2 linked regions of the Homo sapiens genome follow. The protein of the gene in region 1 interacts with the protein of each later gene in a pairwise test. Each region holds a gene or a part of one and is shown in the gene's direction. Other genes may lie near its edges.

The links.
Region 2: the proteins of PPP1R16B (region 1) and TASOR2 interact in binary tests that used the Homo sapiens proteins (3 or more experiments, as listed by UniProt).

Annotation. Positions count from the first base shown.
Region 1 is NC_000020.11:38,913,694-38,920,729, forward strand, and holds part of PPP1R16B (protein phosphatase 1 regulatory inhibitor subunit 16B isoform 1 precursor), read left to right. Parts: intron 1-4,463; coding exon 4,464-4,973; 3' UTR 4,974-7,036. UniProt on the Homo sapiens protein: Regulator of protein phosphatase 1 (PP1) that acts as a positive regulator of pulmonary endothelial cell (EC) barrier function. Involved in the regulation of the PI3K/AKT signaling pathway, angiogenesis and endothelial cell proliferation.
Region 2 is NC_000010.11:5,743,836-5,750,871, forward strand, and holds part of TASOR2 (protein TASOR 2), read left to right. Parts: intron 1-2,343; coding exon 2,344-6,192; intron 6,193-7,036.

The DNA of each region.
Region 1 (7,036 bases):
CAGAGGCTGCAAGGACTGAGGGTTGGGGGTGGGATGAGCAGGTGGTGTAATTGGACAGTTGACCAGGAATGTGTGTCTGGTGGTCAGCCCATTTCCAGAACGGTCTTCAGGAGAGTTTTTCTGCATTGCAGTGCTTGTTTACCCTCAGGGTGAGTCAAAGTCCAGGATCCTGTGGGGAGGGGAGCAGCTTAACTAAAATTTGGTTAAATCATTTACCGCTGGGCGCAGTGGCTCACGCCTGTAATCCCAGCACTTTGAGAGGCCCAGGCAGGCGGATCATCTGAGGTCAGGAGTTTGAGACCAGCCTGGCCAACATGGCGAAACCCTGTCTCTACTAAAAATAGCCAGGCGTGGTGGCAGGTGCCTGTAATGCCAGCTACTTGGGAGGCTGAGGCAGGAGAATCACTTGAACCTGGGAGGCAGAGGTTGGAGTGAGCCAAGATTGCACCACTGCACTCCAGCCTGGGCAACAGAGTGAGACTCTATCTCAAAAAAAAAAAAAAATCATTTAGCAAGCATTTAATTTCGGTTGATAAATTGACAGTTTAATCATTTCAGAGGAAAAGAATGAGAATTTGGGGGACTGTGTTTGGGTTGTCCTAGGAAAAGGAGGGGTCGTCTGAGCGTTCTGGAAATCCTATGGGGAAGGGTGATTCTGTGCAGTCAGCCATTCCCCAGAACACAAAATGTGGGGGTTTTGTTTAACCTTCCTGTTGTCCAGTATCTCAGTTCAACATTGCCAAGATGATGGTGCCTACCACAAAGGGTGTTCTAGGGTCAATTGTGTTCTTATTTGTATAGAACTCAGCCCATAATTTGTACCTCATTAAGCATTAGGCAGATAAGTACATTTAGAAGTTCCCTGCATCATGAGAAAACCTCTTTCGTCTAACCCACATCCTTCAGGCTGGAGTTAATTCCTCTTCCTTCAATGCTCTGATTTCTGACACTGGAGATGGATATAGGTGGGTTTTGTTTTCTTTTGTTGAGACAGGGTCTCATTCTGACAGGGTCACTCAGGTTAGACTGCAATGGTACAAACATGGCTCACTGCAGCCTCACCCTCCTGGGCTCAAGTGATCCTCCTGCCCAGCCTCCCATGTAGCTGAGCCACAGGCACGCACCACCATGCCCAGCTAATTTTTAAATATTTGGGTAGTGATGAGGTCTCACTATGTTGCCCAGGCTGGTCTCCAACTCTTAGGCTGAAGCCATCCTCCCACCTCAGCCTACCAAAGTGCTGGGATTACAGGCATGAGCCACTGCACCCAGCAGGGATTTTTTTCTTTTTAAACTAATAGATTTTTTTTTTCCGAGCAGTTTTAGAACTCTAGAAAAATGAGTGGAAAGTACAGATATTTCCCATATACACCCCCCTCCACCCTGGTTTCCCCTGTTATTAACAACTAGCATTAGTGTGGTACATATGTTATCACTGATGAGCCAATATTGATACATTATTATGAACTAAAGCCCATAGTTTACATCGGGTTTGCTCTTTGTGTCGTAACTCCTGTGGGTTTTGACAAATGCATAATGTCATGTGTCCGTCATGATAGTGTCACACAGAATGCTCTCGCCACTTGGTTTAGGTGGTTATATTAGACAGTTGAGATTGTGAACAACTGGTGAAAGAGACCAGGGCTGTCCCACTAAACAGCCCTGGTATTCTACTTACGCTTCCTCCCCAAACTCTAGCAATCACTGATCTTCTACTGTTTTCATAAGTCTTGCTTTTCCAAAATGTTATATACGTGGAATTATATAATATGTGATGCTTTCAGATTGGTGTTCTATATGGTTTTTTTTTGAGACGGAGTCTCACTTTATTGCCCAGGCTGGAGTGCAGTTGTGCAATCTTGGCTCACTGCAACCTCTGCCTCCTGGTTCAAACAATTATCCTGCCTCAGCCTCCTGAGTAGCTAGGATTAGAGGCCTGCGTCACTGCGCCTGTCTAATTTTTGTGTTTTTCTTTTAGTAGACACAAGGTTTCACCATGTTGGCCAGGCCGGTCTCGAACTCCTGACCTCAAGTGATCCATCCACCATAGCCTCCCAAAGTGCTGGGATTATAAGCGTGAGCCACCACGCTCGGCCTGTACATGTTTTTTTTTAACTGTCTAGATGATGCCAATGTGCATCCAAGATGGGATCAGTGTCTCAGATCTTTGCCACTCTAAGCATCAGCAGGAAATTCTTAGAAGTGCCAAATTGCAGGCCCCAACCCAGACCTATTGAATCAGAATATGGATTTTAACAATATCCCTAGGCAACTCACATACACATCAAAGTTTGAGAAGCACTGACTAGGACCACCAAGAAACGGTCTCTCCATGACATGGCATCAGTCTGCCTGCATAGTTCAGAAGGAGCCATTAAAAAAAAAAAAAAGGTTGGACTCGGTGGCTCATGCCTGTAATCCCAGTGCTTTGGGAGGCTGAGGTGGGAGAATCATTTGAGACCAGGAGTTCAAGACCAGCCTGTGCAACATAGTGAGGCCCTGACTCTAAAAGGAGAAAGCGAAGAAATACACACTCATAAATGGAAACTTACTATGGAAAGTGTTCTTTGCCTTATCACATATTACCATATATATATATAACATATATATGTTATATATGTTATATATGTATGTTATATATAAATACATATATATGTTATATGTACATATATGTTATATATGTACGTTTTATATATATTTATATATGTATGTTATATATAAATATATGTTAGAAAACTAGATTATAAACTAGATTATATATATATATCTTGGACATCTTTCCATGCCAGCTTGTGGAGAATTCCTTCATTCTTTTTGCCAGCTACAGAGCATGCCAATAGAAGTACTGGCCACAGTGTCCTGCTTGCCCAATGATGACTTTCAGGCTTTGCACTAATGAGAGAGAAAATCTGTGAAATGGGCTTGCTGGTGCAAAGTATACAATCTTTTCTAAAAATTTTTATCATTATTATTGTTTTTATTTTTTACTGAAGAGCTGGGGAGAGAAGAAAGGAAAAAAAGAAAAAAATTTCAGTGAAGGATGATGCAAAACTGTCCATCAAAGAGACTGTAGCAATTTACATTCTCACTTATTTCCCCATACCCCTGCCAACACTGAGTAATAACACACTTTAAACGTATTTGTCAGTGTGATATCCAAAAGTGATATTTTGTTGTTTTAATTTTTATAGTATTAACGATTAGTGGGGATGAATATTATTCCAATGCCATGTATATCTATATATTTTGCTGTGGGCTACATATTAGTATCCCCTGCCTACTATTTTTATTGGGTAGATAGGCTTTTAAAAATTGACTTTTGGCTGGGTGCGGTGGCTCATGCCTGCAATCTCAGCACTTTGGGAAGCTGAGGAGTGTGGATCACTTGAGGCCAGGAGTTCAAGATCAGCCTGGCCAGCATGGTGAAACCCCATCTCTACAAAAATACAAAAATTTGCTGGGTGTGGTGGTACGTGCCTGTAATCCCAGCTACTCGGGAGGCTGAGGCAGGAGAATTGCTTGAACCCGGGAGGCAGAGGTTGCGGTGAGCAGAGATTGCGCCACTGCACTCCAGCCTGAGAGACAGAGCAAGACTCCGTCTCAAAAAAAAAAAAAAAAGGACTTTTAAGAGCTCTTTATACTTTTAGAAAATTAGTCTCTTTTCTGTAATATATGTTGAAAATATTTTCCTAGTTTCTTCATGTGTCTTTTGACCTTGTTCCCTGTTCATGGTGATTTTTGCTGTGCTTTAAATGTTGTTGCATGTATCTATTTTTTAGTTTATAGTTTTTAGGAAGCAGCTACTTTTCAAACTCTTGTTATCCAAGGATTATTAGGTGTACAGGATCCCTGGGTAAGAATCTTTGTGAGATATGCTTCATATACAGAGGAAGGATTACAAGTGACTGAAAAACCCAACTCAAATGGACTTACACACAAGGAATTTATTGGCTTGTGCAACTGAAAAGTCTGAGCCTGGAAGGATCCTGGACTTCAAATGGGTCATCAGGATGCAGTCTCTCTTAGCCTTTCTTCATGCCAACTTTACTTGCAAGCAGACCCTTCAACATAGTATCTCCCCAGCCCTCAGCTTACGTCATTCTTACTACCCACAGTTCCTACAGAAACTTCTCTTTCCCAGTTGTTCTAGCAAAAGTCCCAGGGTTGCTTCACTGAAGCAATTTCAGTTAAGAACTCATCCCTGGGCCAATCCCTGTAGTGAAATATGTTGACTAGCTAGGCCTTGGGTCATGATCCAGGCCCTGGAGCAAGGCCAGGGGTCGGTCAACTGTACGGAAATTCATAGATTGGGGGTTCCCCAAAGGAAAACCCTGGCCCCGATACCCAGGGAGAGAAAACAGATAGAGGAAAAGTCCAAACAATAATGCCCTCAGCAGAGAGACAGGTGGATAGTAGGTTCAGATCTTCCAGCCAGCTGGTAATGTTGTCCTTCTCACTCGCAGAACCCCAGGCTGGAGAAGCCCGTGCTACTCTCCGAATTTCCTACCAAGATCCCACGAGGTGAACTGGACATGCCTGTTGAGAATGGCCTCCGGGCTCCGGTCAGTGCCTACCAGTATGCGCTGGCCAACGGGGATGTCTGGAAGGTGCATGAGGTGCCTGACTACAGCATGGCCTATGGCAACCCTGGCGTGGCCGACGCCACCCCGCCCTGGAGCAGCTACAAGGAACAGAGCCCTCAGACGCTTCTGGAGCTGAAGCGGCAGCGGGCTGCAGCCAAGCTGCTCAGCCACCCCTTCCTTAGCACACACCTGGGCAGCAGCATGGCCAGGACGGGCGAGAGTAGCAGTGAAGGCAAGGCCCCCTTGATCGGAGGCAGAACTTCACCGTACAGCAGCAATGGGACCTCGGTATATTACACGGTCACCAGCGGAGATCCCCCACTCTTAAAGTTCAAGGCCCCCATAGAGGAGATGGAGGAGAAGGTGCATGGCTGTTGCCGTATCTCCTAGTCTCCGTGTGATGGAGGAGGGAGATGCCTGGGGAGGGGCTCCTGGAATCCAGGCCAGCCCAACAGCCCTGGCTGGGGAGGTGTCAGGGCAGCTGGGGAGAGGTGGGCTCTGCTTTTCAGAGGAACTCAGACCCCAGCCCTCAGCTGGCTGCCCATAGCATCCCATGTCCCACGTCCCGTGGTTCTGCTTCCTGCTGCATCGTCTGCCATCTGACACAAGGCCTGTCGTGGCCTCCTGGTTCACTCTGCTGTCTGATCTTGGGAGGGTGGGCTTGAGATCCCAGCTCTATTCTTGGTATAAAGGCTTCTCCGGATCAGTACATGCATGTCACATTAACACACACACACACACACATATACACACACACACAAGCTCGATCAGTGTGTGTAGGAATGACATACCTGGGCTCAGGGGAAGCAAGGGGGCTTAGAATTTGTGGGGTATTCCCAAAAGGATGGAAGTTAAGACTCAGAGTCTCATTACCACTGCCAATGTGGTTTTAGCAGGGGAGGGGACCTGCTAAGCTGAGACCCATAGTCCTGCTCAGAGTTATCCCAAAGTCTGAGCCACCAGCCACACCTGACAGGGGTGAGAAGTCCTCGCTGTGTTCAGAGGGAGCCAGGAATCTACATGGGTAGATGAGATAGACACAGACCTGCTCCCCGCAGCCTTGTTGAGAGCCACACTTCTGCCCATGCCAGGAGCCAGCTGTGTGACCATCCAGGGGTGGAGGGGGAAAACCAGGCAATTTCGTTCCTGGAATCAACCAAATCATGTTTTCCTCTTGGATGGAAGTGTCAAAGGCAGAAGGGTGTGGGAGGGGGACAAGGTCAGTATTTACCAAAGTGTATCTGATTTTAAAAATTCCTTTAGTCTGTAAAACTCCTAGAGGGAGGGAGGTAACTGAATTCACTTCTTTTTGTGGATCGTATCAAGGTCACTGGGTTTTACTGGCTGGTGCTGGGAAAATGAAGCTAAGTGAGGAGCTTCCATTGGAATGCTTTTCCAGGGAGAGAGGCCAGTTAATTTAAAAAAAACAGTCGCTAGTTAACAGCGACAGAGCCCAGCACCCTGGGGTCTTTGTGAATATCCAGACTGTTTCAGCCCAGCCCATCTCAGCCAACCCTCCTTAGACTGAGCTGTCAGAGCAAGCAATTAGGGGCCAGCCTGCCTCCACCTCCCACCCCCTTCCACCTCCATCAGTCATGTGTGCAGAGTCAGTGCTCGGGATCCCGGGCCCAGCTTTTGCCTTTTTGGGGATGCTTGGTGAGACAGATTTGCCAGTCAGCCCTTTTGAGTTCCCGCCTCACCCAGGGGCTCCCAGCCTGCACTTGCAGGAGTGGTGATGCCCCAAGTCTGCGAATCCAGGGTGCACGTGGTCAATATCCCCTCCTGCATTCAGGAGAGCCATGGTAGGGCTAGAGTTGGGTCTTGCCCAGCCCTGCAGTTTCATAGTCCCAGCCTTCCTGGTGCTGGGGAGGGAGGACTGTGAATGGCTGTTCTCCCCTCACTGCTGAGTCTCCCAGGACCCCCTTTGGAGATGCCCATGGCATGGGCACTGCCCACAGGCTCAGCCAGAACCTCTTGGTGTACCCGATAAGCTGCAGGTTATCCCTTGCTCTGTGCGCCTTTTATTTGTCCTTAAACTACCTCCTTAGAGCTCTGAAGGGGTCTCCTAGTTCCAGATTTTAATTTGGGGAACAGATCTGGGTTCTTTTTAACCCTCTTCTTTCTCAGTCTATGAGAAACTTGCCCTGAGGGGCACCTGGGCTAGGGGCTTGGGACTGGAAGACCATCCCCGCCTTGTGCCACAACTTTGGTCATGGGATCTGCTCTTTGTCATTCTTAGCCCCCTACTGTGGCCCCCATAGCCCCATAACCCAGAGAGGGAGCTGGACTTCAGGGAGCCTGAGTGATGCTTTCCCAGGAGCAGGGCAGCTGGCTGGACCAGAAAGTAGAGGGCCCATGGGAGTGACTGCACCCTTGGTGGCTGCTGGAAGGGGAGAGGTTCTCAGCATCAGGCCACCTCCACCCCAATGCCAGGATAGATGTATTCTAGAGTA
Region 2 (7,036 bases), on another chromosome or scaffold:
TATGTACTTACGTAGGCTTTTGTTTTTTTGTCATCTTGTTGAATGCTGTGCCTGTACTTGAAAGGCACACGTGTGCTATCGCACTCCCTCCACCAGTTGGCACACTGGAATGTGAAGAAGAGGATTCTAGCATGATAGGCACTAGAAACCAAAAGCATGTTGCTGCTAGTCATGTGTTGAGTTGAGCACTCTTTCTGAATTGTCAGACTTTATTTTAGAAGCATTACACTTTACCTGTAGTAAAAATATATCGAAATAGAAATATATCAAGATTGTCACTATTTGCATTTCACTAAGACTACAGTCATGGTGAGATTTAGGACTGAGGCTAAACGTTACCAGCCACATGATTGGGAGGGCCATTAAAGTTCTCAGAAGGACACTGACTCTCAAGACTTTTCTAATACTTTGTTCTCTTAAAACTCTGTTGTCTCAGCCCCACACTGTTGACTCTGTTTTTTTGTTTTGTTTTGTTTTGTTTTGTTTTGAGAAGTCTCACTCTTGTCTCCCAGGCTGGAGTACAATGGCACGATCTCGGCTCACTGCAAGCTTCACCTCCCTGGTTCAACTGATTCTCCTGCCTCAGCCTCCCTAGTAGCTGGGATTATAGGCGCCTGCCACCACACCTGGCTGATTTTTGTATTTTTAGTAGAGACAGGGTTTCACCATGTTGGCCAAGCTGGTCTATAACTCCTAACCTTAGGCAATCCACCTGCCTCAGCCTCCCAAAGTGCTGGGGATTACAGGCGTGAGCCACTGCCCCCAGCCAGAAATGGTTGGTTGGTTTGTTTGTTTTGTTTTGTTTGAGACAGAGTCTCGTGAGCCACTGCTCCAGCCAGAAATGAGTTTGTTTGGTTTGGTTTTTTTGAGACTGCAGCCTCCGCCTCCCGGGTTCAAGTGACTCTGCCTCAGCCTCCCGAGTAGCTGGGATTACAGGTGCATGCCACCACTCCTGGGTAATTTTTGTATTTTTAGTAGAGACTAGGTTTCGCCATGTTGGCCAGGCTGGTCTCGAACTTCTGGCCTATAGTGATCCGCCCACCACAGCCTCCCAAAGTTCTGAGATTACAGGCGTGAGAAGCCGTGCCCTACCTAAGACAGAAATGTTTTTAACAAGAGATTTGGAACACAGTTCCTGATTTCCAACATGTATGCTTCAAGACATGGCACGCAGTTTGTGAGCATGGTGTTCCCAGCATTGCAGAGGGGTGTGATCAGTTGTATAATCAGTTCATTTTATTATATGCTCGACAAGGCCATGCTTGAGGCTTTAAATAAAACAAAAAACAAATACCACCCTGTTTATGAGGTTATGAGAACTGTCCTGAGATGATAGCTCTGCTAATGTTTAACCTAAATCCTGCTTGCTACTGTTTAAATCAGTGCCTTTAGTTCAGTTTATGATTGCAAACTGCATTGATAAAGTTTTCAATTGCCATGTACAATAGGTATTCAAATGAGAAAGAATCTCCAGTTTCATGCAAAGAAGATAGCTAAGGGATGAGGGGCCTTTGTTGACTAGAATCAATGTATTCTGAGTACAGGGGGTAGTAATTAATTTACTCTGTTGCCTCATGGGAAAGTTTCAGATGATGGTGTACTTATGGTCTAATTGAAAACGGATGTTAAAAATGTTATTTGCTTTTTAAAAATTATCTTTTAGGCTGGGCACAGTGGCTCACACCTGTAATCCCAGCACTTTGGGAGGCCGAGGTGGGTGGATCACTTGAGGTCAGGAGTTTGAGACCAGCCTGGCCAACGTGGCTAAACCTCATCTCTACTAAAAATACAAAAATTAGCCGGGCATGGTGGCATGTACCTGTAATCCCAGCTACTCGGGAGGCTGAGGCAGAGAGTCACTTAAACCCGGGAGGCAGAGGTTGCAGTGAGCCAAGATCACTCCACTGCACTGCAGCCTGTTCGATAAAGCAAGACGCTGTCTTGAAAAAAAAAAAATTAATCTCATTTATTAAAAACAAAATTGAATGCTTTTTCTCTAGTGCTACACTTCTGGATTAAGCGGTGCTAAGTAGCAAACAGGCTGCATTTAAAGTCTTTTAAATTGTCAGTGGTCTAGTTATTTTTCTTCCAAAAAGCTTGGAGCTCTCTTCTGTGTGTGGTTTTAAAGAAAACAAATCCCACTGGGGGGTATTTTAAGTCTGCCTTTAAAAGAGGGACTTGCTTGATTTGTACCCTGTGATATTCTTTTAGCTAGAAAATTCAGAAGAACATTCACAAACTAAAATTAATTTTTATCTTTTCTGTTCTTCACATGTACATATAATCGTATAAAAAACATTTTATATGACTGATTTTTTTTTTTTTTTACTTTGGCCGTTTCAGGTAACTGGGGAAGAAGCTAAACAAGAATCATTGGAGACTTCTAATCTTGTGCTTTCGGGTATTGGAAGTACACAAACTAATGGACCTTCTGTTCCTAGTGAAGAAGAAATTGTTCAGCCACTGGATAGCACAAGAGTGGCTTCTTACAGTGGCACTGTTACTCAAGCCACATTCACCAGGACTTACGATGGGCCTGGCAGTCAGCCAGTGATATGTCAGAGCTCTGTGTACGGCACCCTTGAAAACAAAGTGGATATTCTTGATGCAGCAGTGCAAACAAAAACAGGTACTTTACAGGACCTTATCCAACATGGCAGCCCCATAAACAATGAATGTCACCCTTCCTTGGAAAGAAAGGATGATAATATGGGGTGTGCAGTGATTAACCCGGAACCAATTACTCTCACCTTTGAAAAAAATGCACATGTACCAATACAGACAGAAGGTGTAAATACTGCTGATGAACGTACAACCTTTAAGAAGGAGTTGATTAAGCAAGTATCACCTGCTGCAAGCCTTAGACATCCTGTATCCACCTCGGAAAATGCACGAACACAAGGCCTGAGGGACATTCCCTCTCTAGTAGTTGCAGGACAGAAGGGCACTAAGTACCTTTGTGCCTCGTCAGTAGGTGGAGAGACACTTGATAAAGCAGTGTGTTCATTACAGAAGGAGACGCCCCTTCCAGTCTCTCTACCATCTGATAAAACAATGGTCATGGAGGCACTATCATTAGCTAAAAGTTCTAGTCATCTATCACCCAGTGAAGAAGTGAGATGCACTCAGGATTTCCTTTCACAGACTCAGAGTCTCCTCGGCCTATCTTCAGAAGGGCTTCTAGAACTGACACAGGTTGAAGTGGACTCATCATCAGCCTCTACCACCTTGGGAAGGCAGTGTTCACTTAACTGCATTTCGTCAGGATGCCACACATCAGGTGACTCTTTAGAACTAAGGAAGAATCACAAGAATGGTCCAAACACTGAAAATATGAATTTGGAAGCGTTTGATTCAGTATTTATCAAACAAACAAGCCTGTCTGTGAGTAGAGAGGTCAGCCTAGAGTTATCAGAGGAAGATTCTGACATTGACTTAGCTCTAACAATATCACCACCTACAAGTCCCAGAGAAGAAATGCCAGCTGGTGAAATAGAGCAATTTGAGGAGGCCCCATTCTCAAATTTAGAACTTCAGGATGTAGCTGAGGAAATAGGTGAACCGGAAGAGGTGGCTCTCACAGAAAGCAGAGAAGTGAGTTCTGCTGACAATGTGTCAGTATATCCCTCAGTGTCAGAAGAACCAGTAGAAAATAAGGAGAGAAAGGGGGATAATTTACAACCAGTTACTTTAATACTTTCTAAAGAAAATTGCACCCTTGAGATTGCAGAGGAAATTAATGTGACCTCTGATTTTCCCTTTGATTCTGTAATTGAAGAAGTATCACCAGCGTCTAGTCCTGAACCTCCAGTACCAGTTAAAGAGACACGACCATATCAGGCTGTGACTCCATGCATTTTAAAACTTCATGGTACACAGTGTGAGAAGAGCAACCAAATCTCCCAATGTGAGTCAGAAGACTTAGGCATAACAGAAAAAGAAAATGTTTTTGTTGGTCCTACCCATCCAGTGGGGCAAGATAACTTTACCCAGGTACAACAAATGCAGGTCTCTGCCGAAATGCCTCTAATATTAACTGATCATCCAGGAAGAACAGGTAGACCAACCCTTCCTGGTAAAGTAACTGAGGAAATTGTCTCAAGTGAGCATGATGAGGGTTTATCTTTCTCAGGAAAGGTGCAGTGCTATGGTAGGGAGTTAAACCAGCCTGCCTCAGCTGCCAAATGCACAGGTGACTTCAGTCCTTCTCCTGAAAAACTGGTAAAATCAGGAAATCCATTGCAGCCAGTTAGTATAGAGAATAGAAATTTGGACTTAAAACATCTTGTCTTGGAGTCCAGTGAACCTCCATTTGGTCCTAGAAATGTTATTGAAAATAAGTCTTTGTCTGACACATTGGTTTCCACAACTGCACCAAGTGGTATAGTGAATGTGTCAGTAAAACAGCAGACTAGCCCTAAAAGCAGTCAGAACCATCTCTTTCCCGGTGATTTGAAAACAGATGAAGGCATTTATCTGCAGGTGAAGTCCTTGACAGCTGCCTCGGTTGATGGAGCTTATTCTACACAGGGATGCATGTGCTCAGTGGTCCCCACGCTTTGTTCTTCCTCAGACAATGCTACATTAACCCATTATGTAAGACCAATAAATGCAGAGCCAGTGTTTCAAGCACAGGAAATACCAGCAGGCAGAATGGCCAGTTTGCTTAAGAATGGTGAGCCTGAAGCTGAGTTACATAAAGAAACCACAGGTCCAGGCACTGCTGGCCCTCAGTCCAACACCACATCTTCTCTAAAAGGTGAACGCAAAGCCATCCACACGCTGCAAGATGTGTCAACATGTGAAACAAAGGAGCTATTGAATGTCGGGGTTTCCTCCCTTTGTGCTGGTCCCTACCAAAATACAGCAGACACCAAGGAAAACCTCAGTAAAGAGCCTTTGGCCTCCTTTGTTTCAGAATCCTTTGATACTTCTGTTTGTGGAATAGCCACAGAGCACGTAGAAATTGAGAACAGTGGGGAGGGGCTCAGGGCTGAGGCTGGTTCTGAAACCCTAGGCAGAGATGGAGAGGTCGGTGTGAATTCCGACATGCACTATGAACTCTCTGGAGATTCTGATCTAGACCTGCTTGGTGATTGTAGAAATCCCAGACTGGATTTGGAGGATTCTTATACTTTAAGAGGTAGTTACACCAGGAAAAAAGATGTTCCCACAGATGGCTATGAGTCGTCGTTGAACTTCCACAACAACAACCAAGAGGACTGGGGCTGCTCTAGCTGGGTTCCAGGCATGGAGACGAGCCTCCCTCCCGGGCACTGGACTGCTGCGGTAAAGAAAGAAGAGAAGTGTGTGCCGCCTTACGTCCAAATCCGAGATCTCCACGGGATCCTCAGGACTTACGCCAACTTCTCTATAACAAAAGAACTCAAAGATACCATGAGAACTTCACACGGCCTGAGGAGGCACCCGAGTTTCAGTGCAAACTGTGGCCTGCCCAGCTCCTGGACAAGCACTTGGCAGGTGGCAGACGACCTCACCCAGAACACTTTAGACCTGGAGTATCTGCGTTTTGCACATAAACTAAAACAGACCATAAAGAATGGGGATTCTCAGCATTCTGCCTCCTCTGCCAATGTCTTTCCAAAGGAGTCACCAACCCAGATCTCCATTGGTGCTTTCCCTTCGACAAAAATCTCTGAGGCCCCATTTCTGCATCCTGCACCTAGGAGCAGAAGCCCCCTTCTGGTAACAGTTGTGGAGTCAGATCCCAGACCACAGGGGCAGCCCAGGAGAGGCTACACAGCCAGCAGTCTGGACAGCTCTTCCTCTTGGAGAGAGAGATGTAGTCATAATAGAGATCTTAGAAATTCTCAAAGAAATCACACTGTTTCATTCCACCTCAACAAACTGAAATACAACAGTACTGTGAAGGAATCTCGGAATGATATTTCACTTATTCTCAATGAGTATGCTGAATTCAACAAGGTGATGAAGAATAGCAACCAATTCATTTTCCAAGACAAAGAGCTAAATGATGTTTCTGGAGAAGCCACTGCTCAAGAGATGTATCTGCCTTTCCCAGGACGGTCAGCCTCCTATGAAGACATAATCATAGACGTGTGCACCAATTTGCACGTCAAACTAAGAAGTGTTGTGAAAGAGGCTTGTAAAAGTACCTTCCTGTTCTACCTTGTCGAAACAGAAGACAAATCATTCTTTGTAAGAACAAAGGTAAAGTGCCAGCCACGTCTTACGTATTATTTTAATTGCTGATTTTAGTTTTAGAAATAATAAATTTAGCATATTAGCCATCAAAAAGAAATCATGGTATGACATAGTATTTAAATTTCACAGCTTAGTCTTTATCTGCATACTAAATGTTTTCCTGCAGGATCTGCCATTTGTACTATATTTGAAAATTAGTATTATGTTCCAGAATTAGGGCAATGACTAATTTTTTTTCACAAAAAGTTACCAGTGTAGACATGCCCATACTTCAAGTGTAAATACAAACACATTCCGATGTTAAAATACAGATTTTTTGAAAAGTGGTTGTAGATTGTCCGTTAGTGTGGGTGGTCAAGTAGGACCTCTTTTGGTTTTGGATATATTTTTAATTTGAATTTGAATGTTAGGATAACTGATGTTACGGTGAGTACATGGAGTACATAGTCCTTAAATTTAAGTAATGGAACCATGGTGAAATTCTGGCATGGGCGGAGCCTGTCTTGATTGAACCTGTCTTGATTCACCATTAACTTCATTGTTTTATCCTCCCAGAATTTATTTCTCTTCTATTTCGGGCATAGACAGTATTTTTAAAAATTTAATTGTTTTTAATTTCAAATTTACATAAAGGTTGCAGAAATAGTACCCTTTACCCAGATACCCCAATATTAACATTTCTGAACCATTTGCAAATGTGTTGCACACACAGTGTCCCATTACCTCTTGATACTTAAATGTGTATTACCTGAGTTCAAGGATCCTCATCTTTTTAACCACAGAACAACCCTGTGCATCAGGAAGTTCATATAATATTAATTAAAGTGACCATCTCCATTAACCTCATCTA